Linked DNA regions of Homo sapiens. The protein of the gene in region 3 purifies or fractionates together with the protein of the main gene of each other region. This does not show direct contact. Each region holds a gene or a part of one and is shown on either strand. Other genes may lie near its edges. The genes, in order: MYDGF, PRKAA1, KSR2, FAM162A, URI1, MEX3D and SLBP.

What was found.
Region 1: the proteins of KSR2 (region 3) and MYDGF purify together in Homo sapiens (co-immunoprecipitation; one large-scale study listed by IntAct). This does not show direct contact.
Region 2: the proteins of KSR2 (region 3) and PRKAA1 purify together in Homo sapiens (affinity purification with western blotting; 2 studies listed by BioGRID and IntAct, with this or other methods). This does not show direct contact.
Region 4: the proteins of KSR2 (region 3) and FAM162A purify together in Homo sapiens (co-immunoprecipitation; one large-scale study listed by IntAct). This does not show direct contact.
Region 5: the proteins of KSR2 (region 3) and URI1 purify together in Homo sapiens (affinity purification with mass spectrometry; 2 studies listed by BioGRID and IntAct, with this or other methods). This does not show direct contact.
Region 6: the proteins of KSR2 (region 3) and MEX3D purify together in Homo sapiens (co-immunoprecipitation; one large-scale study listed by IntAct). This does not show direct contact.
Region 7: the proteins of KSR2 (region 3) and SLBP purify together in Homo sapiens (co-immunoprecipitation; one large-scale study listed by IntAct). This does not show direct contact.

What each region holds. Positions count from the first base shown.
Region 1 is NC_000019.10:4,656,412-4,660,618, forward strand, and holds the end of MYDGF (myeloid-derived growth factor precursor), read right to left. Parts: intron 3,593-4,207; coding exon 3,520-3,592; intron 1,674-3,519; coding exon 1,594-1,673; 3' UTR 1,134-1,593; downstream 1-1,133. UniProt on the Homo sapiens protein: Bone marrow-derived monocyte and paracrine-acting protein that promotes cardiac myocyte survival and adaptive angiogenesis for cardiac protection and/or repair after myocardial infarction (MI).
Region 2 is NC_000005.10:40,763,658-40,768,066, reverse strand, and holds part of PRKAA1 (5'-AMP-activated protein kinase catalytic subunit alpha-1), read left to right. Parts: intron 1-376; coding exon 377-601; intron 602-2,828; coding exon 2,829-3,315; intron 3,316-3,426; coding exon 3,427-3,553; intron 3,554-3,599; exon of another isoform or gene 3,600-4,409. UniProt on the Homo sapiens protein: Catalytic subunit of AMP-activated protein kinase (AMPK), an energy sensor protein kinase that plays a key role in regulating cellular energy metabolism.
Region 3 is NC_000012.12:117,758,859-117,763,267, reverse strand, and holds part of KSR2 (kinase suppressor of Ras 2), read left to right. Parts: intron 1-1,743; coding exon 1,744-2,257; intron 2,258-4,409. UniProt on the Homo sapiens protein: Location-regulated scaffold connecting MEK to RAF. Has very low protein kinase activity and can phosphorylate MAP2K1 at several Ser and Thr residues with very low efficiency (in vitro).
Region 4 is NC_000003.12:122,386,580-122,390,988, forward strand, and holds part of FAM162A (protein FAM162A), read left to right. Parts: intron 1-4,409. UniProt on the Homo sapiens protein: Proposed to be involved in regulation of apoptosis; the exact mechanism may differ between cell types/tissues.
Region 5 is NC_000019.10:29,983,352-29,987,760, reverse strand, and holds part of URI1 (unconventional prefoldin RPB5 interactor 1), read right to left. Parts: intron 2,539-4,409; coding exon 2,460-2,538; intron 1,480-2,459; coding exon 1,344-1,479; intron 1-1,343. UniProt on the Homo sapiens protein: Involved in gene transcription regulation. Acts as a transcriptional repressor in concert with the corepressor UXT to regulate androgen receptor (AR) transcription.
Region 6 is NC_000019.10:1,558,066-1,562,474, reverse strand, and holds part of MEX3D (RNA-binding protein MEX3D), read left to right. Parts: intron 1-4,409.
Region 7 is NC_000004.12:1,701,887-1,706,295, reverse strand, and holds part of SLBP (histone RNA hairpin-binding protein), read left to right. Parts: intron 1-2,595; coding exon 2,596-2,700; intron 2,701-4,409. UniProt on the Homo sapiens protein: RNA-binding protein involved in the histone pre-mRNA processing.

The DNA.
Region 1 (4,207 bases), on a different chromosome or scaffold from region 3:
CCCGTGGAGCCTCAGAGTCAAGAGCTGGAAAGCCTCCTGGCCTTGGCGGGGGGGTCTTCAGACCTCAGAGCACTGCCATTCTTGGTCTAGGGGCCCTTCCCGCTGATGTGTGCGGCCGTCAGTCCTTTCCTCATGTGGTGGCATCAAGTGTGTGCTGGGAAGTCAAGGCTGGCTGGTTCTTTTTCTTTTGAGACAAGGTGTCACTCTGTGGCCCAGGCTGGACTGCAGTGGCGCGATCTTGGCTCACTGCTGCCTTGGACTCCTGGGTTCAGGCGATTCTCCTGCCTCAGGCTCCTGAGTGGCTGGGATTACAGGTGTGCCCCACCACACCTGGCTAATTTTAAAATTATTTATTTTTTGGTAGAGATGGGGGTCTTGCTATGTTGCCTAAGCTGGTCTTGAACTCCTGGTGTCAAGAGATTCTCCCACCTTGGCCTCCCGAAGTGCGGGGATTCACGGGCGTAAACCATCCTGTCTGGTCTGTTTTTGTTTTTTAGTCACTGTTGCAACCCAGCTTCAAAAAACTACGGGAGGCTGGCCACAGTGGCTCATGCCTGTAATCCCAGCACTTTGGGAGGCCGAGACAGGTGGATTGCTTGAGCTCAGTTCGAAACCAGCCTGAGCAACATGGCAAAACGCTGTCTCTATCAAAAGAAGATGCAAAAATTAGCCGGGCATGGTGGCGTGTGCCTGTAGTCCCAGCTACTTGGAAGGCTGAGGTGGCAAGATCGCTTGAGCCCAGGAGGTGGAGGTTGCAGTGAGCCGTGTTACACCACTACACTTCAGCCTGGGTGACAGGAGAAGACCCTGTCTCAAAAGAAAAACAAACTAAGGGAAACCAATGCCCCAGGCTGCAGAGAGCAGGTCGGCCTTGGAACATCCTCCCGCGCTGGGGCCTGTGGCAGCCACAGAAACCCGGGTGTGAATTCACAACATGTGGGGGACCCAGGGACAGCGAGTGCCAAGGGGGGAAGGGGGCAAGTTCACATACAGCCACCTTGGGATCTAGCGCTTTGATGCCTGCAGAGAAGTCCCACCCAGAGACACCGCCCACCCGCCCACGGTGGGGCAGTGTCAGCCGCGTCTGAGCTCCTGACCCGCAACGGCCAGCCGGGAGGGCCCAGGCTGTGGGGTTGCTTTTTAATGTTCTTATTTATTTAAATATGAAAAAACATTTCATCTCTTCCCAGTTCATCTGAAAGGAGGTCCCCTGGGTAAACATAGGAAAGCAGTTCTGCAGGCTCATGAAGGATGCTCGGCTGGAGGTCGGGGGGAGCATGGCTGCTTTCCCCAGCATAGCCCCCATGTTCCCCACCCTCTTTGTGCCCCGGATCTGCGATCCTGAGTCCAGAAGAGCTCAGCAGGAAGTGGGAACTGAGAAGCTGTTGGGAGCCAGGAGGGCCCTGGACCCTCTGTTCTCTGCCCCAGGGCTTCAGCCACCCTGCAAGCCCCTCCGGACAAGGCAACGTCAGCCCAGGTAGAAAACTTAAGAGTCCCTCCTAGAAAACCAGTGATGTGCTGGCCCTTTCAGGGACACAGGCCCCTTCAGCTTCACCGGAGATGAGAAGGTGCCACCCGCAACAGGGCTGCTGGTCACAGCTCAGTGCGCGATGCCTTGGCCACAATCACCAGCTTGGACAGCTCAGCTTTGAATGCCCCGGGCCTGTGAGCCACTGCAAGAAAGAAACACATGGTTGGGCCCTCAACATTGAAAATTCTCAGAAGTCCGGAGGATTTGGGGTGGGGCCCATGGTGGGGGCTAAGCAGGCAAGGGGAGCAGTCTCCAAAGCAGACTCCCATGTGAAAAGGCCCCAGGCACTGAAAGTCTTACGGGTGACAGACAGGAAAACAGTGATGTGGAGGGTAAGGTCGGTGGGGCTAACATAGATGGCAGGCAGCAGGAAGCCACAGAAAGACCTGAGGTGGGAAGAACCCTGGTCATTTGTGCCATGTTGTCAAGAAGAGATGCAGAAAGGGGCCAGAAGAAGCCCAGGAAGGAGATGATCCCGGCCTGAACAGGATGCAGGGTGGGTCAGGCTGCAAGACCTCCTGCTCAGTGGGTGAACCTGTCTGAGGCCCTCATGACACTTCTCCAGCAGGGTCAGAACTCTGGCTTCCACTGCTTCACCCAAGTCTCCCGGCCCTACCTGCTGTGTCCACTCCCTTGGCTCCCACCCTTGCCCCAGCTCGGCGCCTCCGATTCCTCTTTCTGCTTAGCATTGGCGCCATGCAGCTGAATGTGGCTTGAGGACACCGGTGCTGCTCAGGCAACCGAAGAAGGACCCTGATGTTTCCCAGTGACCCCTGCAGCCTCCCCTCGGCATGCCACAGTCCCAACCTCAAAGCCCTGATGGTTTCTACTTTGTTTTATTTCATTTATTTATTTTTTAAAATTTATTATTTTTTTTGAGATGAGAGTCTTCCTCTGTTGCCTAGGCTGGAGTGCAGTGGTGCAGTCTCGACTCACTGCAACCTCCTGCTCCTAAGTTCAAGAGATTCTCCTGTCTCTGCCTCCTGAGTAGCTGGGATTACAAGCATGTGCCACCATCCTTGGCTAATTTTGGTATTTTTAGTAGAGAAGGGGTTTCACCATGTTGGCTAGGCTGGTCTGGAACTCCTGGCCTCCCAAAGTGCTGGGATTACAGGTGTGAGCCACCATGCCCAGCCCTGTTTATTGTTTTTGAGACAGAGTCTTACTCTGATGCCCAGGCTGGAGTGCAGTGGTGCGATCATAGCTCAATGCAGCCTCGACCTCCTGGGCTCAAATAATCCTCCCACCTCAGCCTCCTAAGTAGCTGAGACTACAGGTACACACCACCATGCCCGGCTAATTTTTTTTCTTTTTGAGACAGAATCTTGCTGTCTTCCAGGCTAGAGTGCAGTGGCATGATCTCAGCTCACTGCAACCTCCACCTCCCAGGTTCCAGCAATTCTCCTGAATAGCTGGGATTACAGGTGCGCACCACCACGCCTGGCTAATTTTTTGCATTTTTAGTAGAGATGGGGTTTCATTATGTTGGCCAGCTGGTCTGGAACTCCTGACCTCAAGTGTTCCGCCCGCCTCGTCCTCCCAAAGTGCTGGGATTACAGGCGTGAGCCACCGCACCCAGCCTGATTTTTAAAAAAATTTTGTAGAGACAGGGTCTCGCTATGTTGCCCAGGCTGGTCTTGACCTCCTGGGCTCCAATGATCCTCCCACCTTAGCCTCCTGAGCAGCTGCGGTAACAGGCATGAGCCACCGCGCCCAGCTAAGATAAAGTTCTAGTGGCACACAGCCACACCCACGCATGGACATACTGTCTGCAGCAGCTTTGTGCCACAATGGCACAGCTCTAGACAGAACCCACAGTGCCACAAAGCTGAAGATATTGACGAGGTGGCCTTTATAGAATCAGTTTGTGGATGCCTGGTCTACAGTCTCCAGGACCCCTATGGCTGACCCCCCTCTCCAAACTGCCCCGATTGCCCACCCTTGGATGGGGGTGGCGTCACCTCTACCCCATCCCCATCTTTCCGTACCTGCTGTTTTGGTCACTTCAAATTCCTCAGTTTTCAGAGGGACATCACTTTCCCTTTCAAATGCGGCTTTAGACTGAAAAAGAATGAGTGGAAACTTTACCAGGGCCAGTTCAATGCTCATCATTAGGAAAACGATTGAGTTTGCTTTCCAGAGAAGCACAGACTAAAGCTTTCTACTTTTACTAGAGATGGAGAGGAGACTTTTTTGTTTTTGAGCCAGGACCTCACTCTACTGTCCAGGCTGGAATGCAGCAGTGCAATCATAGCTCACTGCAGCTTCAAAGTCCTGGACTCAAGTGATCCTCCTGCTGCGGCCTCCTGAGTAGGTGGGACTATGGGTGCATGCCAACACGCCTGGCTATTTTTTTTTTACTTTTGGTAGATATAGGGTCTTGCTATGTTGCCTAGGCTGGAATCAAATTCCTGGCCTCCAGCAATCCTCCTGCCTCAGCCTCCCAAATTGCTGGGATTACTGGCGTGAACCGCCGCGCCTGGCCTGGAGAAGTCTTTTCTGGCATATACAAGAGAAGCCAGCAGCAACAGGTTACCAAACCCCCGTGCCCCTGGCCTGGGGGCGTCTGTGTGCCAGGTTCCTGCAAGTTACACACCCTACCTCTGCAGGATTCGCTGTCCCCTCTCCTCCCTGTCCCCATGGAGCCCTCTTGTGGCAGGACATCTCACAGCTGCC
Region 2 (4,409 bases), on a different chromosome or scaffold from region 3:
TGTGGGCTCAGAGTCCATTACTAAAGAACATTCTCAGTTGATGAAATATCACTTAATCTCTCCTCTGTAACAAAAACCAATGGTTTTAAATTGAATAGTGATATGTTTGTTCAAGATTTGGCCCTATTGTCAGATCCCATCAGGGCCATAGTAAATAGTAGAACAGAATTTTAGCCATGGTGTGTAATTTACAAACTTCTTGACTTTTGTTTTCAAAGATAATACTGATGGAATTAACGTTGTAACATGTAGTAGTGGCTATAAAAACCATATTCTGCTTAAGAATTCTTTATGAAATATCCATATTTGAAGTTTTTGATGAACTGAATCTTAGGTTAAAATGATTCTTTAATCCAATTGTTATTTCCTGTTACAGATTGTATGCAGGCCCAGAGGTAGATATATGGAGCAGTGGGGTTATTCTCTATGCTTTATTATGTGGAACCCTTCCATTTGATGATGACCATGTGCCAACTCTTTTTAAGAAGATATGTGATGGGATCTTCTATACCCCTCAATATTTAAATCCTTCTGTGATTAGCCTTTTGAAACATATGCTGCAGGTGGATCCCATGAAGAGGGCCACAATCAAAGATATCAGGTAATAAAGCAGTTTGGAAGTTATCAGATCTGATAGTATCCATGATAAAAGTTATGTGAAAAAAAAAAAGTTGCAGAACAGAATATACAGTGTAATCCTGTTTTTATGTGAAAAAAATAGAGTGTATAGACACATTTATTTTATTTTGTTATTAGAAATACATAGTAAACTGGTTACCTTAGGGAAGTAAGATTCGTAAGAGGGAGGGCTTTCACTTTTTACTTACACATCTTTGTTTTGAAATTTTTACAGTGAACATCATATTACTTTTTAAATTAACAAAAAAGCTAATGAAAGATTGGTGCTGTGGCTCACACCTGTAATTCCAGCACTTTGGGAAGCTGAGGAAAGAGGATCATGTGAGCTCAGGAGTTTGAGACCAGCCTGGGTAACATAGCGAGGCCCCATATATATGTATATCTTTTATTTTTATTTATTTATTTTTTTTGAGACAAGGTTTTGCTCTGTCACCCAGCCTGGAGTGCAGTGGTGTGATCATAGCTCACTGTAGCCAGTAACTCCTGGGTCAAGTGATCCTCCCACTTTAGCCTCCCTAGTAGTTGAGACTACAGGCATCCACCATCATGCCTGGCTGTTTTTTGTTGTTATTGTTTTGCTTTTTGTTTTTGTTTGTAGTGACAGGTCTTGCTATTTTTGCCCAGGCTGGTCTTGAACTCCTGGCCTCAAGTGATCCTTGTGCCTTTCCCTCCCAGTGTTGGGATTACAGGTGTGAGCCAGTATGCCTGGCGTTAGGATTAATACTTTTCAGTAGTAAATTTGTGGGTGGCTATTTTATTTCTTATCTCATGAATTATTGTATTTTTTTTCTTTTTTTAATCCCAAGGAATGAGATTTAATTGACATGTTTTTCCTGGTAGTATACATTGAATTACATGCAAAATTCCTGTTTTGTAGGTAAAAGTCAGTATAACCAGTTTCATCTGGTTCAACCTAATAGTTTAAATTAGACAAAAATGACGATGACAAATTTTCTTCTCAAATTAGAGTGAGCCATTTCTGATGAAGACTTAAACAATTTTATTGCAAGCCTTGTTTCTTTTTTTTCCCCCCTGTGGAAATTTTGGTCCTTTTGGTCTTCTAATGGCTAGACTGCACATTTATCTGAGAAGGAAGAAAGAAATCAGATATGGATCTAGGAATAGTAAATATGAAAGCATTAGTATAATGAAGAAGAAGGAAAGATTATATGTGGAACTTGAAGCTTGATTACTTTCCACTTACTACACGTTTTAGACTAGCTAAAAAAGAGACCATGAATGGCACGGCATGATTTTATCACCAAAGGGAAAGGACAAATCATTCTCTAAAATTTATATTTTAAGATATCTAGGTAAGAAATGTTTTTGTTTGTATTTTACCTATTTTCTTCCAATTAAAATATAATACATGACAATTGAAAAAACTTAGAAAAACACCAACAATAGAGAAGAGAATAAAAAATTATCTTTAATCCCATGACCCAGAAGATAACCATTGTTCTTTTCTTGTTTTTTTTTTCGTCTCTGGATTTTATTTAGTTTTAGCAAAGTGACATAGTTCAGGTCAAACATATTCTTAAATATACGAAGTTAGGGAATTAGAATAGGAAATCATTCAGGGCATGGCCTTTCCAGTCACACAGAACTGGGTCATAATCCTGGTTCTGTCACTTACTGTCTTTGTGACCTTGAGCATGTTCCTTGATTTTTTTTTTAACCTCAATTCCTTCATTTAAAACAAAGAGATATTATCTTCATATAATTGTTTCGATGATGAGGGGAGATAGTGTATATGAAGTGTTTAGCATAAAACTTAGCATATAGTAAGTACTCAGTAGTTGTCTACTATTTTTCTTGTTGTTACATTATCTTCACTTAACATTATATCAAAAGAGTATTATAATGAAGCTACCTAATATGTTCTCTTTCTAAGCTGGAAATAAGCTGTTCTTTTCATTGTTTGTCGCTGTCATTTGTCCCATAACTTTTTTCCCCCCATTGCTGTGTCAATACATTCTCCCTCTTAAAACTGGAGGGAAATTGGAGCATTTCCCTCAACATACACAATGAAGTGCGAGCTAGAAGAGGAAAATTTCAGTGCAAAAAGTGACAATAATACAGTATGAATATAAATATAAATTAAGTCATATTCTAAATTCCCTAAACTGTTACTTTCAGTCTCAGCTCTATTCAAAGTCCTTCTCCTGATCCTGCCATTTTTCTCTCAGGGAACATGAATGGTTTAAACAGGACCTTCCAAAATATCTCTTTCCTGAGGATCCATCATATAGTTCAACCATGATTGATGATGAAGCCTTAAAAGAAGTATGTGAAAAGTTTGAGTGCTCAGAAGAGGAAGTTCTCAGCTGTCTTTACAACAGAAATCACCAGGATCCTTTGGCAGTTGCCTACCATCTCATAATAGATAACAGGAGAATAATGAATGAAGCCAAAGATTTCTATTTGGCGACAAGCCCACCTGATTCTTTTCTTGATGATCATCACCTGACTCGGCCCCATCCTGAAAGAGTACCATTCTTGGTTGCTGAAACACCAAGGGCACGCCATACCCTTGATGAATTAAATCCACAGAAATCCAAACACCAAGGTGTAAGGAAAGCAAAATGGCATTTAGGAATTAGAAGTCAAAGTCGACCAAATGATATTATGGCAGAAGTATGTAGAGCAATCAAACAATTGGATTATGAATGGAAGGTAAGAAAGAAATAACATTTTGATTATTAGCATATTTGGCAAACCCATAGTCTATAAAATGTTTTATAGAAGAATTACTTTTGACTTGGTTTTTGTTATACCATGTGCTAGGTTGTAAACCCATATTATTTGCGTGTACGAAGGAAGAATCCTGTGACAAGCACTTACTCCAAAATGAGTCTACAGTTATACCAAGTGGATAGTAGAACTTATCTACTGGATTTCCGTAGTATTGATGGTATGTACATCACACAAAACAACATAGATTAGACCTTGTTACTAACTTGGTATTTTACGCCTTGATTCTTTTGAGGCTTCTTGACTTGTTCCTAGTAATTCAACTGCAAAGGAATAAAAAATGTGATTTCTTGTGCCTTTGCAATATTAACATTTATGAATCTTATTTTTCTTGTAATCTTATAGCATATTGTCCTTTTAAGATTATCATCTTGTAAAATCCTTAAAGCCAGGTGTAGTCTGATCCTAAGGTGATAGTTTTCTGCTGCATTTGTTTTTTTGGTGTAGTTCATTTTGATAAGAGACAATGTTTTATTTAGAAATAAATATTGACTCTTCTGTAAGCTTTTATTTATTATTAAATAAGTTTTCAGTTAAGAATGAAGTTATGGCAATTCTTCATTGGCCAATTCAATTGCATTAAGCTACGCTGTTGAGTGCAGGTGTGGTGGCTTATGCCTGTAAACAGCCCAGCACTTTGGGAGGCTGAGGTGGGAGGATGGCTTGAGCCCAGGAATTTGAGACCAGCCTTAGCAACATACTGAGACTCTGTCTTTACAAAATATTAAAATATATATATATAGTATCACCTTTGCTTATGGAAGGTTGCATAGAATTATTAGATGAGGTTCACGTTTGAATTTTTTTCTTCTTTATAAACTCAAAGATAGTACACACATAGTAGCAGAAAGACACAGGTTTGAGCCATGATATGTTGGCCAAACCAGTTTGTCTGGTTATCTTTAGGTCCATATAGTACGTATCTGCTAACATATACTAATGCAGTCTGAAATACGGAATGAGTTTTATTTTTCTTGTATTTGGATCAAATTTGCAACCTTAGATTTACTAGTACT
Region 3 (4,409 bases):
GTGGCACATATACACCATGGAATACTATGCAGCCATAAAAAATGATGAGTTCATGTCCTTTGTAGGGACATGGATGAAATTGGAAATCATCATTCTCAGTAAACTATCGCAAGGACAAAAAACCAAACACCGCATGTTCTCACTCATAGGTGGGAATTGAACAATGAGAACACATGGACACAGGAAGGGGAACATCACACTCTGGGGACTGTTGTGGGGTCGGGGGAGAGGGGAGGGATAGCATTAGGAGATATACCTAATGTTAAATGACGAGTTAATGAGTGCAGCACACCAACATGGCACATGTATGCATATGTAACTAACCTGCACATTGTGCACATGTACCCTAAAACTTAAAGTATAATAATAATAAAATAAAAAAAAGGTTTTTTTTTTTTTGAGACTGAGTTTCACTCTTGTTGCCCAGGCTGGAGTGCAATGGTGCGATCTCAGCTCACTGCAACCTCTGCCTCCTGGGTTCAAGCGATTCTTATTGCCTCAGCCTTCTGAGTAGCTGGGATTACAGGCACACGCCACCACACCTAGCTAATTTTTTTGTATTTTTAGTAGAGATGGAGTTTCACCATGTTGGCCAGGCTGGTCTCAAACTCGTGACCTCAAGTAATCTGCCCATCTCGGCCTCCCAATTGCTGGAACTACAGGTGTGAGCCTCCGTGCCCAGCTGCCCATATTCTTTTTATCACGTCATTCTGTTTATTTCCCTCCCAGCACCAATAACCATGTGAAATCCTTCTGTGAGCATGTTTTCTTGTCTATCATGGCTGCTTTGGCAGAATGTAAGTCCAGGGGACCAGGGTCTCATCTGTGTTGCTTTTGTGTCTTTTCCAAGCAAAGGGCATAGTTGGCACTCACAGGATGTTTACTGGACAAATGCATGAATAAGAACATGGCGACACAGATCTGGAGGAAGTATGCGGTGGCTGAGGAAGTGGTCAGGGAGGGACTAAGGATGAACTTGACTTCCTTGGAATTTGTGTATCTCACATGAGGGTTAGGTATTAAAATTTCCATGTAAGGGAAAAGTTATCCTTTAAAGTCCTTTAAATCACTTTGAAACTACCAGAACTGGGACCTTGGGAAGTTCAAAAAGTGAGAATTAACTTCTTTGCTTTTCTGAGCATTTGGGCTGTGGGGTCTTCCCAGCTATGGGGCAGTGGAAGGCAAGGCTGTTGAATGGAGAATAGGGTAACAGGGTCAACAAGGGGATTTTATTGTCTTTTTGGAGGAGCCAAGTAGAGATGGTTGGCTTTATGTAAATGTACTTATGATGTAATGTGGGTATGATGTAACATGCATTTGATAGAATGTCTGTAAGAGGTAATGGGCATATGAAATAGCATGCATATGATGTAATGCACATATAATGTGACATGCATATGGTGTAATGTGCATATGATATGTGCATATAACATGCATACAACATAACAGATATATAGTGTAACATGCATATGATATGATGTGCATATGATATAACATGCATACGATGTAACAGGTATATAGTGTAACATGCATATGATGTAATGGGCACATGGTATAATGTGCATAAGATATAATTTGCATATGAGATAACATGCATACGATGTAACAGGTATATAGTGTAACATGCACATGATGTAATGGGCACGTGGTGTAATGTGTGTATGATGTAATGGTGTGTATGGTGTAACTCACCTGGCTTTCTCATGGCTTACCCATTGTCTCTGCTCTTCTGTTCCAACTCAGGAGGCAACCTTTCCAAACAAGACTGGACCATCCAGTGGCCCACGACAGAGACGGGGAAGGAGAACAATCCCGTGTGCCCCCCGGAGCCCACCCCGTGGATCCGCACCCATCTCTCCCAGAGCCCCAGGGTCCCGTCCAAGTGCGTCCAGCACTATTGTCACACCAGCCCCACTCCCGGGGCCCCTGTGTACACCCACGTGGACAGGCTTACCGTGGACGCCTACCCGGGCTTGTGCCCGCCCCCGCCACTGGAGTCGGGCCACCGTTCCCTGCCCCCATCGCCCCGGCAGCGGCACGCGGTCCGCACCCCGCCGCGCACCCCCAACATCGTCACCACCGTGACCCCGCCGGGCACGCCGCCCATGAGGAAGAAGAACAAGCTGAAGCCCCCGGGGACCCCACCGCCCTCCTCCCGAAAACTGATACACTTGATCCCGGGATTCACCGCGCTGCATCGGAGCAAATCCCACGAGTTCCAGCTGGGGCACCGCGTGGACGAGGCCCACACGCCCAAGTGAGTGCGATCGGTGGGTGCCCTGGGGCGGTCGAAACCCGGCCTGCGAGGGGCTGCCCCTTGGTCCCAGGAACTGCCCAGGTCAAGGAAACCGGGAACAGACTTGCGTTCCAGACTCTGGTTGAATGAAAAATGGCTTTTCACAGAGGGTTCTGAGCAAATGAATAGAACAGAATTTCCCAGAATTGGCCGTTTAAAAAATACGATTAATATCCTATGGCCTAGGGGCTAAATCTGATACCCGGCCTGATTTTGTAAATAAAAGGTATTGGAACACGCCCATGATCATTCCTTTATGTGTTGCCTATGGCTGCTTTTGTGTGACAATGGCAGAGTGAGAATAGCCCACAAAGCTGAAAGTATTTACCATCTGGCTTTTTACTGAAAACGTTTGCCAACCCCTGCAGAGTCTAGCCTAGTGCCGCTCCTAGAAATAGGATATGAGGCATATATTAACCTTCAACTTTCTAGTAGTCACATTAAAAAGAATGAAAAGGAACAAGTGATATTAATGATCATAATACATCATTCAACCCAATATATCAAAATTATAATATCTTAACAAAGAATCAATGTAAAATATCATTACAGAGATATTTTGCATTTTTTAAAATACAAAGTCTTTGAAATTGAATGTGTATTTTATATCCACGGCTCATCTCAGTTGAAGGTGGTAGGAAGCAGGACACGTTGGGGAAATTGACAGAGGACCCCTTTGGGGGAGAGAGCAGGTGTGTGATGTAGGGTGAGACTCGAGGATTAGGCAGGTTGCTGTGCTATTCACAGTAGCCAAAAAGTAGAAACAACCTGTGTCCATCAGTAGACAAATGAGTAAACACAGTGTGGTCTATCTATACAATGCAATATTATTCAGGCTTAAAAAGGAAGAAACTTCTTTTTTTTTGAGACGGAGTCTAGCTCTGTTGCCCAGGCTGGAGCAGTGGTGGGATGTCAGCTCACTGCAACCTCTGCCTCCCAGGTTCAAGTGATTCTCCTGCCTCAGCCTCCCAAGTAGCTGGGACTACAGGCCTGTGCCACCACGCCTGGCTAATTTTTTGTAGTTTTTGTAGAGATAGGGTTTCACCATGTTGACCAGACTGGTCTTGAACTTCTGACCTCAAATGATCTGCCCGCCTTGGCCTCCCAAAGTGCTGGGATTACAGGCATGAGCCATCATGCCCGACCTGGGAGGAACTTCTGATATATGCTACAACATGAGTGAACCTTGAAGACAGCATGCTAAGAGTAAAATATGCCAGACACATAATGACAAATACTGTATAATTCCACCAATATGAGATACCTAGAGTAGACAATTTATAGAGGCAGAAAGTAGAACGGTGGATGCCAGGGCTGAGGGGAGGGAGAATGGGGAGTTGTTATTTATTGGATATAGACTTTGCATTTGGGATGATGAAAACATTCTGGAGATGGATGGTGGTGATGGTTGTACAACAATGCAAATGTAATTAGTACCATTGAACTGTACACTTCAAAATGGTTAAGATGGTAAATTTTATATTATGTATATTTTATCACCATTTTAAAAAGGCAGGATTCTGTAAGTGAAGGGTTGGCACACTTTTTCTGTACAGGGGCAGATAGTAAATACTTTAGGCTTTGCAGACCATTCAGTCTCTGTTGCAGTTACTCAACTCTATCATGTAGCACAAAACCAGCACAGACAATAGGTAAACAAATGGGCATGGCAGTGTTCCAATAAAACTTTATTTATAAAAACAGGTACCTGGCCCAATTTGGCCCATGAACTGTGATTTACCAAGCCCTGTCTGAAGCCGTAGTGTAGAGAGTGATCTCTTTTCTGAAGCATTGGGAATGCCCTACAGTGATTGACGTGGAACATGTGATTTTACAACAGTCATATTTAAGCTGCTATGTGAAACCTAGCTTGAAGACGTAGAATGCATGTTTGAGACCTCTGAGGGTGAAGCAGAGGATAGATGCTTTTCTGATTGGAGTTGTGTTTGATTTGCATGGTTTTGTGAGAGCCACAGAGATTGGGGCCTGCTGAAACCTCAAGGTGAAGATGTGGGGTAAAGTTCCAGGAAGGCTGGGAGTGCAGGTTGCTAAGGTGGAGGGTGGAAGAGGCATTTGGGGTTTGGTTGCTACGGTGGCCCCACACTTTGTGCTT
Region 4 (4,409 bases), on a different chromosome or scaffold from region 3:
GAAGCATAATCTAGGCATACCTTACTTATCCAGAATATTTGGAATAAGATTCTCTAGGTAAGTGAAATTTCAGATGATCAAAACTTAACCTTATAAATGATGGACCTTTACTTTTGTTTCTGTTGGAAATCTTTGGTATACTCCCTTAGCAAACAATATAGCAAACATAATGTAGGCTTTTATGAGCTCGAATTTGTTGTTTTGTAGATGTAGTTGTAGATACAGATCAGGGTTGTTAACTTGTGGTACTGGACACCTCCACATTTGAGAGGTCCTGTGAACTTCTCAAATTTTTATGATTGTATACCATTTTTGAGAGAGAGGGTCCATATTTTATATCTGCTACTCAGAGCAGTTCATGCTCTTTAAGTTAAAAAGCACTGATACAGATGATTAGGAACTAAATGGCCATTTACCCACACTACGCTGGGTTTCATAAGGGTAAACACTGGCTCTGTTTTGTTTTTACTCAGTCCTTACCACTTATTGGTGTTCAGTTCATAGTAGACAGGCAATACATATTTTTTGGATGAAGGATGCTAGGAAATATCTTGGAACATGCTGCAAATGTAAGGTGAGTTTTCACACCTGTTTTCTCCTGAAAGAATAAAATAGATATAACTTTTAGGATATTGTATCTTTCCACAGAATGATTATTAGTTCAAAGGAATGGAATGACCTTACAAGAATGTTTCTTATTGAAAGAAAGTTTTGCTCCCCTAAACTCTGTTGACTGGTCAGATTTGAAAATGAATTTGTTACCGTCATTGTTACCAATGTAATGGACTATGGGCTGCCTTCCTTTTAGTTTAACCCACATCTCAGAGCATTAGAGTAGAGAGGTATCTTAGAAGTCAGGTAATTTAGTCCTCTAATTTTTACAGATGAGGAAACTTAAGGGCCAAGAAGGGAATCAGCTTGCCAAGGACCACACAGGTACAGACCTGGGACATAGCCAGTATCCCCTGGCTCCCATTCTGATTTTATTTCTACCACATTCTGCTACCTTATTCTTTTTGTTTGTTCTTGCTAACCAAACCTAAATGAGAACGTACGCATTTTAACTACCCCCACATTTGGCTTTACTTATTGCTCCTTTCCAGGTCTTGCCAAGTATTTATTGAGTACACAATGGATGCCCTGTGTGTATACTGTGAAGGCTCTAAAATGAATGGACTGCCCCACTCCTAGGGCTGATTTATTGCAATGAACAAACAAACATATATAATATACCATTGGCTTCAAGAATTCTGAGATTCTTGAAGGCTCCATTGAAATGAAGGGGTGTGAGAGTGATGTGAGCACATGTAGGGGCGGTAATGAGTTGTGAGCACATGTAGGGGCGGTAATGAGTCTGAAAAAGGATATGAGAGAGGAAAGATTACCTTAGGGATTTTGATCAGGAGGCAATAGGAGGTAAAGTGTAGTGTTTGGAGACGTTTGAACCAAATGAATTTGGACCAAAAAAACCTTTTAGCAGGAGAAGTAACACAAGAAACATTTCTGGAAAATTAACTCAGCAACTACATACCAGTTGAATTGCTGCTACCTATGAAGATATTACAGTAACTGATGTGTGAGGTGATGATGGAAATAACGAATATATTTAGGAAGTGTCTTGAAGAAAGGATGAGTTTGGAGATACTGAGTAAGGAAGGACTTAAAGACAAGTTTTTTAATGTTGAGGACTACAGAAGTATTGCCTCATTGTCAGAAATAAGAAAGTTGGAAAAATAATCAGAAACGCCATCAAAGATTTGTGTTAGTTTGGCAGAGAAGATGGTGCATTATTGAGTAGGTTTAGGTGGCACTGAGTTATAGGTTGTGAGAGGTTGAAGACCTGAGGGCAAAGGAAGAGTAAAGTTATGGAGATAAAGATATGGGAGCAATTAGTCTGGAGTTGATTTTTAAAACAGAATGGAGGAGTCCTTCCAGAGAGTAGCACAGAATAGAAGCAAGGACTAAGCCTTGGAGGTGTGACATGGTGTAAATAATAGGAACTGGGAAAGAAGACATTAAAGAAGATTGGTCATAGAGGTTGGAGATGAAGTGAGAGAATTTGGTGGTACAATGTAAGGAGGCATTGAATCCTTGTAGAAAGATGAGATCAGTCGAATCAAATGGCCACAAAAATGGGAAGAGTAGAGTCAGAAGGGCTAATGATGAGAATCTAAAAAAATGTATTCATGACCGGGCACGGTGGCTCAAGCTTGTAATCCCAGCATTTTGGGAGGCCGAGGTGGGCGGATCACGAGGTCAGGAGATCGAGACCATCCTTGCTAACACGGTGAAACCCTGTCTCTACTAAAAACACAAAAAATTAGCCGGGCGTGGTGGTGGGCGCCTGTAGTCCCAGCTACTCAGGAGGCTGAGGCAGGAGAATGGCGTGAAGCCGGGAGGCAGAGCTTGCAGTGAGCTGAGATCACAGCACTGCACTCCAGCCTGGGCAACAGAGCAAGACTCCGTCTCAAAAAAAAAAAAAATGTATTCATATGACTAGAAAGAGGTCACTAATGTTGGTAGAGTAATTTTAGTAAAATGATTGGAGAAGGAAACATTGTAGCAAAATAAAGTGTGGGTGGTGAAGTGAAGTAGTAGATACATGCCATTTATTCAATCATTTGAGCTATGAAAAAGAGGAAATAAGAATTTTATTAATAGTACCTGTTGAGAACAAGTGAATGCTTTGTCCAACATAGTGGACCTTCAGTGTTATTGTAGAGTAATAAGACAGAATTCTCAGTAACTACTAGTAGAAGTTACTGGAGAAGTAGTCAGCCTTTCTGGAAAGTAGTATAGATGGATAGATAGATAGATAGATAGATAGATAGATAGATAGATAGATAGATAGATAGATGAGATAGATAGATGGAAACTTAAAGGGGTTCATACCCTTTTACCCTTCACTTCCAGGATTTTATTCTAAGGAAATAATCAGAAATACCATCAAAGATGTATGTAGAGAACTGTTCATTGAAACATTACTTATAACACTGAAAAATTGGAAAGAAATCAAGTTGTAGGGAATTACTACATTCAGATTATAGCTGTGTGTCGGGTTTTATACAGCTATTAAAAGTATTAATATCTTGGAAAGTATTTGTGACATAGCAAGATACAGTATTATCTGATTATGAAAAATGTATATGTTTTATGTAAGTATAGGAAAGGTCTGAAAAGAAATATTAATGCACCAAGTTGTTATCCCTAAGTGCTATGATTATGAGTGCTTTTATTTTTCTTCACATCTTTTTTTAACTTCCAAATTTTCTGTAATGAGCAAGTGTTACTTTTATCATTTAAAGTTTGTTTTACTAAAAGCTTTTTACATAACATGGTGTGTAACAACTTGGTGGTACAAAGGTTTTTACATAGTGAGACCCGATCTCTACAAAACAAATTTTTTTAATTAGCTAGACATGGTGGCATCTGCCTGTGGTCCCAACTACTCCAGAAGATGATACAGGAGGATCGCTTGAGCCCGGTTCAAAGTTACAGTGAGCTATGATCTCTCCACTGCCCTTTACCCTAGGTGACAAAGTGAGACCTTGTCTCTAAAAAAAAAAATAAGTTTTTTAGTTTTGATTTTAAAGATGGGGGAGATAACATTTGGCAGGAAAAAGGCAGTGGAAAATAAGGATAAGTTTGGTACGACATCCCTCAGCAGAGGGATTACTACTTAAGAATAAAGGAAGACTGGTATTTCTTCAAGCCTGCAGGGAAGGATGAGAAAACGGATATAGGGAGTCTGTTTCTGTCACAAAGCCCAGGTCAACAGCTAAGGCCTAGAGAGTTTCAGATAGACACTCTGGGGAGTGGGTTGTAATATTGATTCTCTGATTCCCAGAGAGTTGTCATATCTCCAGTCACATCACCTATGGTTTTCTCCAAGAGGACCTTGAAAGATTCTGAGAAAGAAAAAGCATCCCTACCTTTCCTCACTGTCTATCATGGGGTTGGAAAGGATATTTATGGAAAGGAGGGGACTACCAGGAGAGAAGCTGGTACTTCAACCAGCCTCACCCTGGCTGACCACTATAGCCTCCAGCTAGCAATGATATTTCTAAGGCACTGGTTTTCAGATTATGGGTCCCCCATAGCAGAAGTTTCACCATTACCTGGGCAATTGTTAGAAGTGCACATTCTCAGGTTCTGTCCATACTGACTGTATCAGTTGGGTCCAGTAATCTGTTTCACAGGGTCCCCCAGGTGATTTCGATAGATAAAAAAGTTAAGAACCTTTACTCTTAAGATTAGCCGTTTGCCACCCAGAGCCTTAGAGACAGCTGTGAGGCTTCATCTTAACTTCCTGCTAGGGCCCTGGAGACACAGAATTGGTCAGCCAGGGACAAGCTGTTAAGTCCAGCTAGAGGGTTAAAGGGCTGTTTTTCTTTTGGTTTGTATGTTTT
Region 5 (4,409 bases), on a different chromosome or scaffold from region 3:
AACATGTTTCTCTACTCTAGAGCTCTATTCTATTGTAGTATAAGTATTCCCATTAATATTTTAAGTTATAACTAATTATAAAGATTTTTTTCACTGAAATATGAAAATCAATGTGAACAAACTTCAACAGGCTATGGATTCATTTCATAACATCAGAGCTACTTCAGTATATAAAGAGAGGCTTCGTCTTCAGTAAGGTCTTTAAGAAAAAAGTATGCCCATTCTCTTTCGCTAATATACATGACAAAAATAATGCAGCAAAGCCAAAAGATTTATCATTGCCAGAAATTACATACAGGCCTAACAATAAGATTCTGATTAGTGTCACAAAAGATCAAAATATATATCAATTATAAACTTATAGGAGTTGATTTGCAATTAGAGTCTCCAAATATAGTTCCCAGAATTTCACTGAGTAAATGAGTTCTCTAGTACTCATTCATGTATAAGTGAAATCAAGTTCAGCTTTAGAAAACTCAGCTGTTTTCTGTTTAGTATGACCTTATTTATAAAAAAGGATCTTCCCATCATTTATTTTCAAATACACATTTAACTAAAAGGTTAAAAAGCAGGTAGGGCGGATATTATACTCTCAATCTAAATACGTATTACAGAAATAACAACAGATTATAAACTGAACCTAATTTTAAAATATAACTAAGCTAGAACCCAAGCTAGCTCATCCAACTGCAAAATGTGTAGTGTGTGTTGTGTGTGTGTATGTAGGCTTCTATACACCTACAGATAATAGCACGGATAAACAAAACTCAAGAGCTGCCCTAATAAAGGGATGCAGAGAACTCAAACAACTGAAAAAGGATAAGGGTGCTGTTTTAGGTAGCACCTTTTCACACCTGGTCTCCTCTATCAAATGAAAATATGGTTTTTTTTCCAAACCAAAAAGCATTTTTAAGAATTGTCTACTTATGTAAACAGGTATTTCTCTTAGTTCACTAAGGAGAAAACACATTATTTCTGTGTACTAAAGTATTAAGTGCAAAAATAAGTCTATAATAGCAACTAAAAAAAAATTATAAGGTATAAAATGACTCCAATTTTTATGTCTTCCCAACTTCTAACTACAAAATCACATAATGACTTTGAAACTTTGTAACTTCTGAAAACATGCCAATGTAGGTGACATTTCCAACCCGGATGCTCCATTCTCCAGCTCATTCTCAAATGTTGGTTCTACTCAAACTACCTACAATTCAACAGAATCACAAACAGCCTGGATTCATAGATCACGGAAGGTACTTTTGGTAAGAAACAGCCCTTCAGCTTGGCAATCTGTGAATGGATACATATACAACAAAGAAACATCATTTAAAATGGGTACCTACGTTCTTTCCGGTGCTCAACTAAACCTACAGCCTGCTTTGCTGAGCACTTTGCAAACCAGTTGTCCCCCAGTAAAACAGTGACTTCATTAGTATGGACAAGTTTTCCTGGCATGAAGGCAAAAGGGCCAAATGGTACCTATTGTTTAAAAAAAAAGAAAAAAGGGAAAAAACATAAAACACTGAAAAGTACATTTTATAAAACACTTCGCATTAAAAGCCTTACATAACTGAATTTTTTTATTTATACATTGGGAAAAATAAAATGCCAGCTTCACAGAAATTCAACACTATATTAAAATTTTACTAGGAAAATCTAAAGAAAATTGCTTTATGTTCATAAATCAATGTTAAAACAGGAAAATAAATCCACACCATATTTACATATAGCTCTTAAAGAAAGTAGTACTGTCTCGGCATGTTTATACTTTTCATTCACTTGCAAATCTAAGTGAAAGCAACTAGTAGTGAAACATTGTCAATGCAAAATACTTTTGATAAAGAAAACTAAAAATTATTTTCAATAAAGTAGACACTTTTGCAAAGCAGGAATTAGTAAACAAATAGCTTTAATGGATCTATCTAGCTATATATACAAAATACTTGGACTAGTATAAAAGAACAAAGTCTTCATAAGAAAGAACATTCATGCAATGAAAGGCTCTAATCCAGGGCTCATGAACAGATCACTATGTCGATGTGAAGATCATTAAAACAAAAATTAGCAGCACGTTTTTATATAAAAATCAATGTCCTAAGGTTTAATTCTGTGAATTACAAAACATTATGGCCTATTCCTGCTCTGGCTAACAAGAAACGACTTAGTACCATATTTCTGTCATAATTACATTTTTTATATAGTAAGTTTCCATTTGAAATATGTCCAATTTTGTGCTAATATTTATGTCATTTGTGTCACCATATATATTCTGAAAAAAAAAGGTAAATACCAACAATTACTACAATTACTGTGTTCTTATAAAGTAAAACAAAACAAATCTTCCTTGCTACATAGTTACCTTGGACACAGTCCATCAGCCTGACATTCTGTGAACCGACACATAGTTAATATGTTTACAAGAAACAACTATTACTTTAAAAGAAACACACCAAACATACCATTATATTATAAGACAATTTATCAGGCAAGGTGCTGAGTCTTTCTCGAAGGGCATTATAGTCATTATCTACCTTCTTCCTGTTGACAGAAAACACCAAATACACACATTATTAACGATTTTTCTTTTTTTTTTTTTTTTTTTTTTTTTTTTTTTTTTTTTTTTTTTTTTTTTTTTTTTTTTGAGACAGAGTGTCGCTCCGTCGCCCAGGCTAAAGTGCAGTGGCGTGATCTCGGCTCACTGCACCCTCCACCTCCCGGGTTCAAGCAATTCTCCTGCCTCAGCCTCCTGAGTAGCTGGGATTACAAGTGTGCGCCACCATGCAAGGCTAGTTTTTGTATTTTCAGTAGAGAGGAGGTTTCACCATGTTGGTCAGGCTGGTCTTGAACTCCTGACCTCATGATCCTCCCACTTCAGCCTCCTGAAGTGCTAGAGTTACAGGCGTGAGCCACTGCACCTGGCCTCACTCAAAAGCTTTATTAAATCTCTTCTTTCAGTCGTGTGTGGTGGCTCACGCCTGTAATCCCAGCAATTTGGGAGGCCCAGTAGGCCAGGTATCATAAAACAAGCTAATCAAAAACATAATTTTAGCAAATTCAAGATTAATGTGGTTTTATTTTTAGTTTTAAAATCCTGTTTTTATACAGTTTAGCAATGGCATTATTCTACCATACATTTATTGAAGAATTAAGACTCTTCAGGGACTCTGGCATTTAGAAGCAGAATACTCAAATTTTGAGAATTACTGTTTTTTAAGATACAAGACTATCTGGACCAAATAAAATGTGAAAATTAAGGGAGACAGTAAAAGAGGGCCTGATATTTGGAGAGAAGAAGGGACTCAAGATGAAAAAAGAAGAGATTTATTTATTTTAAGACAGAGTCTCTCTCTGTTGCCCAGGCTGGAGTGCAGTGGCACAATCTCAGCTCACTGCAACCTCCACCTCCTGGGTTCAAGTGATTCCCCTGCCTTAGCCTCCTGAGTAGCTGAGACTACAGACGCATGACACCACGCCCAGCTAATTTTTGTATCTTCCATAGAGATTAGGTTTCTTCGCCACGTTGGCCAGGCTGGTCTCGAACTCCTGGCTTCAAGCGATCCCCCCACCGCAGCCTCCCAAAGTGCTGGGATTACAGGCATGAGCCACCACACCCGGCCGAAAGAAGAGATTTAATAAAGCTTTTGAGTGAATAGATACTGGCTGTGAAGTTGAAATCATGAACATGAAATTTGATCAGATGCTTTAGTCCTCATCAGAAAACCTTAGGCTGAAAAATGCATCATCAGCTCTTCAATTATTCATAATAATGTGATTAAGGTAAGAGAGAATCAACTGGGGGTAGAAGAAATTAAGTAGAGATAATACAAAAGGCGTTTCAATTTGGCCTAGGAGTCTGTTTCTTGTTACATCAAACAGAGCTACCAAATAAGTAATTTCAAACAACCAAAAGGTATATGTAACTCTGTAGGGGCAGAGATGATCGTATTTCCATGCTATGGGCCTTACTCAGCTCTTAACACCTGCTGGAAATGAACAGCCCTTCTTTTTGAGTAATACCAGGCAGCAGCCTATGCCAAGATGCCCGTCAAACTTTCTCTGGAGACTGGGTTTCCAAAGGGTTCCCTGCTAAGATACAGGCTGCAAGCAAAACTACAGCACTGAATTTTTTTTAAGCAGAAGGATGTTGTCAGTTTTTAAAAATAACAGAAACAAAAATTCACCAACTCAGCAAGTAATTTAAAAGAACATGTAGACATTGTCAAATTGAAATCAGGATAAACTGCAATGTAGGTAACAACTCTCCAGATAATATAAATGACAAACATCACAGAATTGGTTTCAGCTTACTGCTTAGTTCCCTGAAGCAACAGTAGCATAATTAATAAAAAAAAATTAGCTCAGTCTTAAGATCTTAAGGAATTTCACATATATATTATTTTACATAACCT
Region 6 (4,409 bases), on a different chromosome or scaffold from region 3:
CGGCTCACTGCAAGCTCTGCCTCCCGGGTTCAAGCGATTCTCCTGCCTCAGCCTCCCGAGTAACTGGGATTACAGGCGCCCGCCACCACGCCCGGCTAATTTTTGTATTTTTAGTGGAGATGGGGTTTCACCATGTTGGTCAGTCTGGTCTCGAACTCCTGACCTCGTGATCCACTGTGCCCGGTCCACACCTGGCTAATTTTTTTTTTTTTTTGAGACGGAGTCTCACTCTGTCGCCCAGGCTAGAGTGCAGTGGCGCGATCTCAGCTCACTGCAACCTCCATCTCCCAGGTTCACGCCATTCTTCTGCCTCAGCCTCCCAAGTAGCTGGGACTACAGGCGCCCACCACCACACCCGGCTAATTTTTTGTATTTTTAGTAGAGACGGGGTTTCACCGTGTTAGCTAGGATGGTCTTGATCTCCTGACCTCGTGATCCACCCATTTTGGCCTCCCAAAGTGCTGGGATTACAGGTGTGAGCCACCGTGCCCGGCCACACCTGGCTAATTTTTAAAAATTTTTTGTAGAGGCCGGATATGGTGGCTCACACCTGTAATCCTAGCACTTTGGGAGGCTGAGATGGGAGGATCACCTGAGCCCAAGAGTTCCAGACCAGCCTGGGCAACATAATAAGACCCTGTCTCTGCAGAAAAGCTTTAAACAATTAGCCGGGGGTGGTGGTGCATAACTGTAGTCCCAGCTACTCGGGAGGCTGAGGTGAGAGGATGGCTTGAGCCCAGGAGGTCAAGGCTGCAGTGAGCTGTGACTGCACTCCAGCCTGGGCGACAGGTGACACCCTTTATAGAGACAGGATCTTGCTATGTTGCCCAGGCTGGTCTCGAACTCCTGGCCTCAAGTGATCCTCCTGCCTTGGCCTCCCAAAGTGCCGGAACTACGTACGGGTGTGAGCCACTGTTCCTGGCCTGGGAGGGGGTTTTGACATCCCTGTTTGACAGCTGAACCAGCTTCCCTCCTCCCCACCAGACCCCTCAGCTCCCGCTGGCTTCCATAGTGGCCCAGGTCTGGGATGCTGCTGTCCCGCGTCACCCGGCTGCCTGGCTGGGGGCGGCTGCGTGTTGGACTGAGTGTTGGCTGTGAGGCCTTGTTCTCGCCCCGTCCTGCTTCTAGAATCCTGTCCTTGCTGTTGCCTCAGCGGCTCCCTGGGGTTCACATTCCCCTTCCTGCCATGGCAAACCCATCCAGCCTGGGCTGGTGGCCTCGGCTCCCACACCAGGACTTGTGGTTTCATTGGTAAGTCGTAGTGCACGGTCATTGCAGCCAGGACCCTGGACGGGCTGGATGAGTGATGCCCGCTGGTGTGTGTGCTGCGTGGGGCCCTGGTAGGGGGAGACTTGGCTGCTGTGGGTTGGGGGTGTGGGACAGGTCAGGGCCAGACTCTGGGGTGGTCACCCCGATTCCCAGGCATCTCAAGCCCTCCGAGTTGGAATTCTGGGGACATGGCCCACGAATCTGCATTTCAGTGCCTGCCAACCTTCGGTGTCCCCCAGAGCCCGCCCTTCAGGCTTCCTGTCCCTCTAGCCTCGCTGTGTCATTTCCAGTGGGGCAGGGGTGGGCTGGGATCACTCCTGGAGCCCCGATTCCTTGGCCCCTTGGCGTCTTGATGTGGGTGGAGTTTTGGGGGCCAGCACGTGTCAAAGCAGACGCAGCACCAATGAATTGAGCTCCAGCTCCGTCTTTGAGGTCCTAGAGGCCTTCTAGCTGTGAGGTCTCCACCCAGCGCCACCGTCTGGGTTAGGGCAGGATGGAGTAAGGGGAGGGGGAGGCGCCAGTTCCCTCCCCTGCCCCGACGCACGCGTGGCTCCCAGCACCATCCTGGTTTCTGCTCAGACAGTCACACGCCCCCTTCCTTGCCACCTCCATCTCCCAAATTTGTCATCTCACCCAGACCAGACTTTCTGTGACCACAGCCTGTGAGCTCAGCGGTGGCCACGTCGGGGCAGCCTCTCCCACGTGTGACCCTCTGGGGACCCGGGGCGGCTCCCAGATCAGCAAGGGAGGACCCCATGCTGCACCCTGGCAACGCTGGCGGGCTCTGCCCTCTGCCGGGTCGGCGTGATGGGGAACAGGCTCACTTCCTGCCTGTGGGCAGGGCCAGCGGAGCCTCCATCTGTGGGTGGCACCTCCTTCCCCAGCCTTGCTGGGTCTCCACTCCCTGTGCCTCAGTTTCCCTTCCTCAAGGAGGATCTATCTAAAGCAAACACTGTGGGCTGCAGTGAGACCTGCCAGGGTGGCTGCCAGGAGCCAACGGCCTGGTCATGGCCCTCTGAGGGCCTGTGAAGCCGGGCCTGTGAAGCCAGGCCTGTTACCTTCCCCTTTCACAGTGAAGAAACAGGCATAGCAAGGTCCCCCAAGTGCCGAGGGAATCCCCAGCCCCATCCTCCAGCCTCAGGGAGGCAGCTCAGAGAGTCAGGCATGTTAGGAGAGACTCAGAAGAGCAGGCCCAACCCGATGCAGTCAGGGTGGGCTTCCTGGAGGAGGGGGACACCGGACTGTACAGAAGAATGGAGGGGACTGGGTGCAATGGAGGTGAACAGAATGCTGCGACTGGGAGGGACAGGTGTGGTGGCAGTGCAGCTGGGGCGGGAAAACTGCTGTCCTCCTCCGAGTGGGTGCACCCCCGCCACCCCTCCCAGGGTCCTCCCTACCGAGCCCCTGGGACCACCAGCCTCCAGGTCCCACGCCTTCCATCTTCCTGGCCCAGGCAGTTTCTGACTTCTTCCCCGTCAAAAGTGCTGATCCTGCTCATTTCATCTCTTGCACTGTGGGAGAGTTAGCAACACTGTTTTCCCCTCAGAGCCACCTTCTGACTGTATTGAAACATCCCTGCAGCTCCCTCTGCTTCCCCAGAGCCTGAGGGGTTGTGAGCAGTGGCTCAAAACTCCTTCACGGGCCGGGCGCAGTGGCCCACACCTGTCATCCCAGCACTTTGGGAGGCCGAGGCAGGAGGACTGCTTGAGCCCAAGAATTTGAAACCAGCCTGGGCAATATAGTGAGATCCCATCTCTACTAAAAATAAAAATAGGCCGGGCGTGGTGGCTCACGCCTGTAATCCCAGCACTTTGGGAGGCCAAGGCAGGTGGATCACCTGAGGTCAGGAGTTCAAGACCAGCCTGGCCAACATGGTGCAATCCCATCTGTACTAAAAATAAAAAAAATTAGCTGGGTGTGGTGGTGGGCGCCTGTAATCCCAGCTACTCAGGAAGCTGAGGCAGGAGAATTGTTTGAACCTAGGAGGCAGAGGTTGCAGTGAGCCGAGATGGTACCACTGCACTCCAGCCTGGGCAACAAGAGCAAAACTCCGTCTCAATAACTAATTAAGCTGGGCATGGTGGTGCCAGCTCTGGAGGCTGAGGTGGGAGGATCACTTGAGCCCAGGAGTTGAAGGCTGCAGTGAGCTATGATCACACCACTGCACTCCAGCCTGGGTAACAAGAGTGAGATAATCTCAAAAAAGGAAAAGAAAAAAAAAAAAACCATTAAGGCCCCAGGGGTGGGGTAGGGATGTCTGGGACCCCAAGAAGGCCATACCTGGTCAGCGGTTGCCTACACAATCGGTGAGGAGAGCCCTGCCTCCCACACTGACACTCATGTCCCTCACCAGGTCAGACCCCCAGCCCAGCCAACAAGAACAAAGCCACAGCAGGCCCCTCAGGGCCCACCTGGATGCCTCGGAGGCATCTGGAGTCAGGGTGCGGGCGTCTGCAGTCGGGCCGAGACCTCGGCTCCCCTTAGGCCAGGGTCTTGGTAGCCTAGGGAGGGTCATTTGGCCGGAAGAAAATTGTAGGCAGTTTCCACAATCTGAATTTCGGCTTCCCCTCCTGTTGGGCCGGGAGGTGGTGTCAGAGGGTCTCCAGTTGCTCTCTGGGCTGACACAATGGGGGCTTGAAACCATGGAAACGTCTCCTCTCTCATTTCTGTAAGATAAAAGTTCCAAGTCAAGGTGTGGGCAGGGCGGGGGGCGCCTTCAGTTTCCGGGGGCTATGGCCAGTCCTTGGCTTGTAGAGACATCACTGCAGTCTCTGTCTGTGTCTCCACAAGGCCAGCTTCTCTGTGTGTGTGTGTCTTTTTTTTTTTTTTCCTTCTTTTTTTGAGACAAGGCTTTGCTCTGTCACCCAGGCTGAAGTGCAGTGGTGTGATCATAGCTCACTGCAGCCTCCACCTCCCGGGCTCAGGTGATCCTCCCACTTCAGCCTCCTGAGTAGCTAAGACTACAGGTGTGTACCACCACACCTGGCTAATTTTTTGTTGTTGTTTGTAGTAGAGATGGGGTCCTGCTGTGTTGCCCAGGCTGGTCTCAAACTCCTGGGCTCCAGTGATCCTCCTGCCTCAGATTCCCGAAGTACTAGGATTACGGGTGTGAGCCACTGACCCTGCCACTGTGGCTCTTT
Region 7 (4,409 bases), on a different chromosome or scaffold from region 3:
TTTTATTTATTTTCTGAGACGGAGTCTCTTGCTGAGGCTGGAGGAGCAGTGGTGCAATTTCGGCTCACTGCAACCTCCGTCTCTGGGGTTCAAGCAGTTCTCCTGCCTCAGCCTCCCTAGTAGCTGGGGCCTACTGGTGCGCACCACTGCACCTGGCTAATTTTTGTATTTTTATTAGAGATGGGGTTTCGCCATGTTAGCCAGGCTGGTCTCAAACTCCTTACCTTGGGTCATCCACCCGCCTCGGCGTCCCCAAAGTGCTGGGATTACAAGTATGAGCCACTGTCCTCTGCCACCATATATATTTTTTTGAGATATGGTCTTGCCCTGTTGCCCAGACTGGAGTGCAGTGCCAGGATCATGGCTCACACAGCCTTGACCTCCTGGGCTAGAGTGATCCTCCTGCCTGGGCCTCCTGTGTAGCTGGGACTACAGGCACGCCCCACCATGCTTGGGTATTTATTTATTTTGGAGATGACGTTCCAACCTTTTTATTAAAATCAACTTCTCACAATGTATAAATACTGCATATTAGCACACATGAAAAAGACAACTTCTAAGGCACCCAGAAATACATTCATACACGTTACAGGACCATTTGCAGAGTGGACAATTTGCTGTAGACAGTCAGCATTGGATAAATCAGAAGATTATCATCCCTCAGTACTGTACCCAGTCTCAGTAAATATTTACAACATGGTGAGAAGGTGTCAGCTGTACCTGCTTTATAATTCTATGAAGTACTCAGACTTACAGATAATTCAGAACTAAAGACAGTCCCATGATAATCTGACAAAATAAAACAAGTAGTCTAAAGTCTTAGTGATTTTGGTGTGTGCTACATCCATGATCAAATCCAAACACTCCTGGGGTGGGCTGGATAAGTTTTTGGTAGCCTGCTTCATTATCAGAAGTTTGTTAATAAGCCTTGCCAATAGAATACCATTTCTTCAGCATCAGTCATTTCTCAACTGGTTAATGGATCAGTAATCTCATCATGAATGAGAATGGAGAGAGAACAGAAGACAATTCTTCTCACACTTAACAGGAATTAGGATGGGTCAGTGCAGTCTGGGTACGGTGGCTCACAGCTATAATCCCAGTACTTTGGGAGGCCGAGGCAGGTGGATCACCTGAGGTCAGGAGTTCGAGACCAGCCTGGCCAACATGGAGAAACTCAGCCTGTATTAAAAATACAAAATTAGCTGGACGTGGTGGCTCATGCCTGTAATTTCAGCTACTCGGGAGGCTGAGGCAGGAGAATCGCTTGAACCTGGGAGGCAGAGGTTGCAGTGAGCTGAGATCATGCCATTGCACTGCAGTCTTGGCAACAAGAGTGAGACTCCGTCTCAAAAAGAAAAAAAAAAAAGAATGGGTCAGTGCAGAACAGGAGGAGGCAGACATTTGGCAAGTACAGGATCATACTGTTTAGTATAGACATGTCTGGAAAATTCTTACCCTGGAGGTTCATATTCAGATGGAGGAGTCTACACTGGCCAGATAACCTGGAGGAATGCCAGACCTGCACTTTTATTATATGGATACAGGCTTGGGACTACACAGCGGAAACACCCACCTGAGATAGCCTCAATTAGAGACTTACCTTGCAGAGCCTTCTCAGTATGACAGCGAATCCCTCTGTATGGCCAGCCAGGGGAAGCACGAGGTTGCTGGAAGTGAGTAGTTGCTCTGCACCGTCAAGCATGCACACATCTGTCTAGATGTGCCCGCGATCTGTGAAACTCGGGCTTTGTTAGAATAATGGAATTCTTTGGTGGTCGGTTTTATGAAAGGCAATATTGTCACAATCCTGTCAACATTGACATTGGTAATGACTTCAAGCTGGGACTAATGGCATAGAGACAAATTAAATACAAGATGGGAAACTCTACACTCTCTGAACTTCTTAGAGTCAACTTCATAAGCTCCAGCATCAGGCCGGATGTTGGATCAATGAGATAAGGTTAACCCATAGAAATGCCAGAACTGAAGCTGAAAACTAGATATGGGTTTTTCTGACTGCCACACACACTGCAAAAATTTGAAGCAAATCTCCCATCTTAATGACTTTATAAACACATACCAGAGATGAACGAAATAAGTTGATTTCAGCCATATGATAGCCCTGGACTACTGAAGTGTGGACACCCAAAAGGAATCATAATTTAGTTTGAAGTCTAAAATCTAGTTGGTTTTATTAGACCCCCAAACACAGTGGGCACACTGCCAAGGAGCTCCATGACTTCTGCTCTAGTAAGACAGCCCTGGATAGACAGATGCAGCTGATAGGTTATGTTCTACATCTAGTTTGCTTTTGTCCTGCTAAACTCCAGTTTAGTATGGTTTGATACACATAGTTCACTGATATAATGCTTTTATTTTTTTGGGTGGGGGACAGAGATGAGGTCTCACTATCTTGCCCATGCTGGTCTTGAACTCCTGGGTTCAAGTGATCCTCCTACCTCAGTTTCCAAAGTGCTGGTATTACAGGCACAAGCCACTGTGTCCCACCAGCCTTTGAATATTTCTTGACATACAGTTTGAAAGAAAACAAAGTATGTGTCATGGTTCAGTAGCATTTTCCTTTTATTGCAGCTTTACCACTCCTGAAGGCCCTAAACCCCGTTCCAGATGCTCTGACTGGGCAAGTGCAGTTGAAGAAGATGAAATGAGGACCAGAGTTAACAAAGAAATGGCAAGGTACACATTTTGGACCACCTTGAAGTGTTAATCTGTGGCGTTTTCAGTAACACATTAAATTTGATATTTGTCTTAGAACAGTGGTTTTCAAAGGTCTGGGCTCCAGACCAAAGGCATCAACATTTCCTGGGAACTTGTTAGAAATACAGATTCTCAGACCCTTCCCTGGGCCTGCGAATGGGGTGGGGCCTGGCCATCCTGTGAAAAGCCCTCCAGGCGGGTCCACTCTTTCAAGCTTGAAGACCACTGTCCTCTTGGTGGTAATCCTTCCAAGAGTGGAAGTAGGTGCACAATGGTGTTACTGCTGGATTGCAGGCTGGAGGACTATCAGAACTAACTTTCTTTTTTTTTTTTTTTTTTTGAGACAGTCTCGCTCTGTTGCCCGGGCTGGAGTACAGTGACAAGATCTCGGCTCACTGCAACCTCTGCCTCCCGGGTTCAAGCGATTCTCTTGCCTCAGCCTCCTGAGTAGCTGAGATTACAGGCACAGGCCACCACGCCTGGCTAATTTTTGTATTTTTTGTAGAGATGGGGTTTCACTATGTTTGTCAGGCTGGTCTTGAACTCCTGATCCGCCCACCTCGGCCTCCCAAAGTGCTGGGATTACAGGCATGAGTCACTGTGCCCGGCCTAACTATCAGGAACTTACTATAGTCATTTGTTACCACCGACCTTCTGTGTGCGGTGCTCACACAACCCAGCACAGTAGATGGAGTGCTCTCTCCAGATGAAGGAATACATTGACACTTGGCTTAGGCAACAAACAGCTCAGAAATGCCAACATACAAGGAAAGGTCTCAAACTTGGATTCTGTGAACCTCTTGCAGTTGCACACAAGATTGTTGTGTGTATCCAAGTTCTTGCAAACTAAGCTACTTCGTCTTCGTTGACTCATTACCTAATGCATCCTTAACCATGTTTAATCTCCCTTGATTATCAGTGTGTTGATCCTTTCTCTTTTGATGAGTTGTCTAACTCAAACCCAGTTGCAAGGACTGGGTTTATTCAAACCCAGTTAAAATGTGGCTCATAATTGGTTGAAGTATTTTACAAGATAATTTTAGCCAACAAGTGGCTGATAAACAGGGTCTCAAGAAAAATGTGTCTTGCGTGTCAGCCGCGGAACGATACCTAGACTACCTGTTTTCATTTTGGCAGCCAGTGATGGTATTTATATCAGCCTCCTTTGAAAAGGGACGGGAATATGTGGGAATTGGTTATTGAACATTTGGGGGAGTTATTTGTCATTTCTTCTGGTATCAAAATGTGTGGGTGGATGTATGCCTTGGTAGAAGAAATGAACTAGGAGTTCACAGATGAGAGTACCAGTGTTTTTAGTGAATTATTGCATTTATATAGGTCTTGACTTCCTCAATTATAAAATTAGAATGTTTGACTTGACTTGTATAGTTTGTGTTGCATGCACAAGTCTTAGAACAGTTCTTGCATACCGATAGCCTAGTTGCTCCCTCAAGTCACCCCTTGCCAGGGGTTATCTGCAGCTCTTATTCATGCGTATTCCACCTGTCCAGATTGTCCTGTGAGTGGACCCTATTTGTTCTTCAGATATCTCATGGGTCTGTGCCTGAAAATTGTCCTGTTTTGGAAAACAGCACTGTTTGGGCTGCTCTGTTGATTATACCCTTTGTGATGGAAAGCTACGGCTTTTATTTACTTACTTATTTTTTTGAGATGGAGTCTTGCTCTGT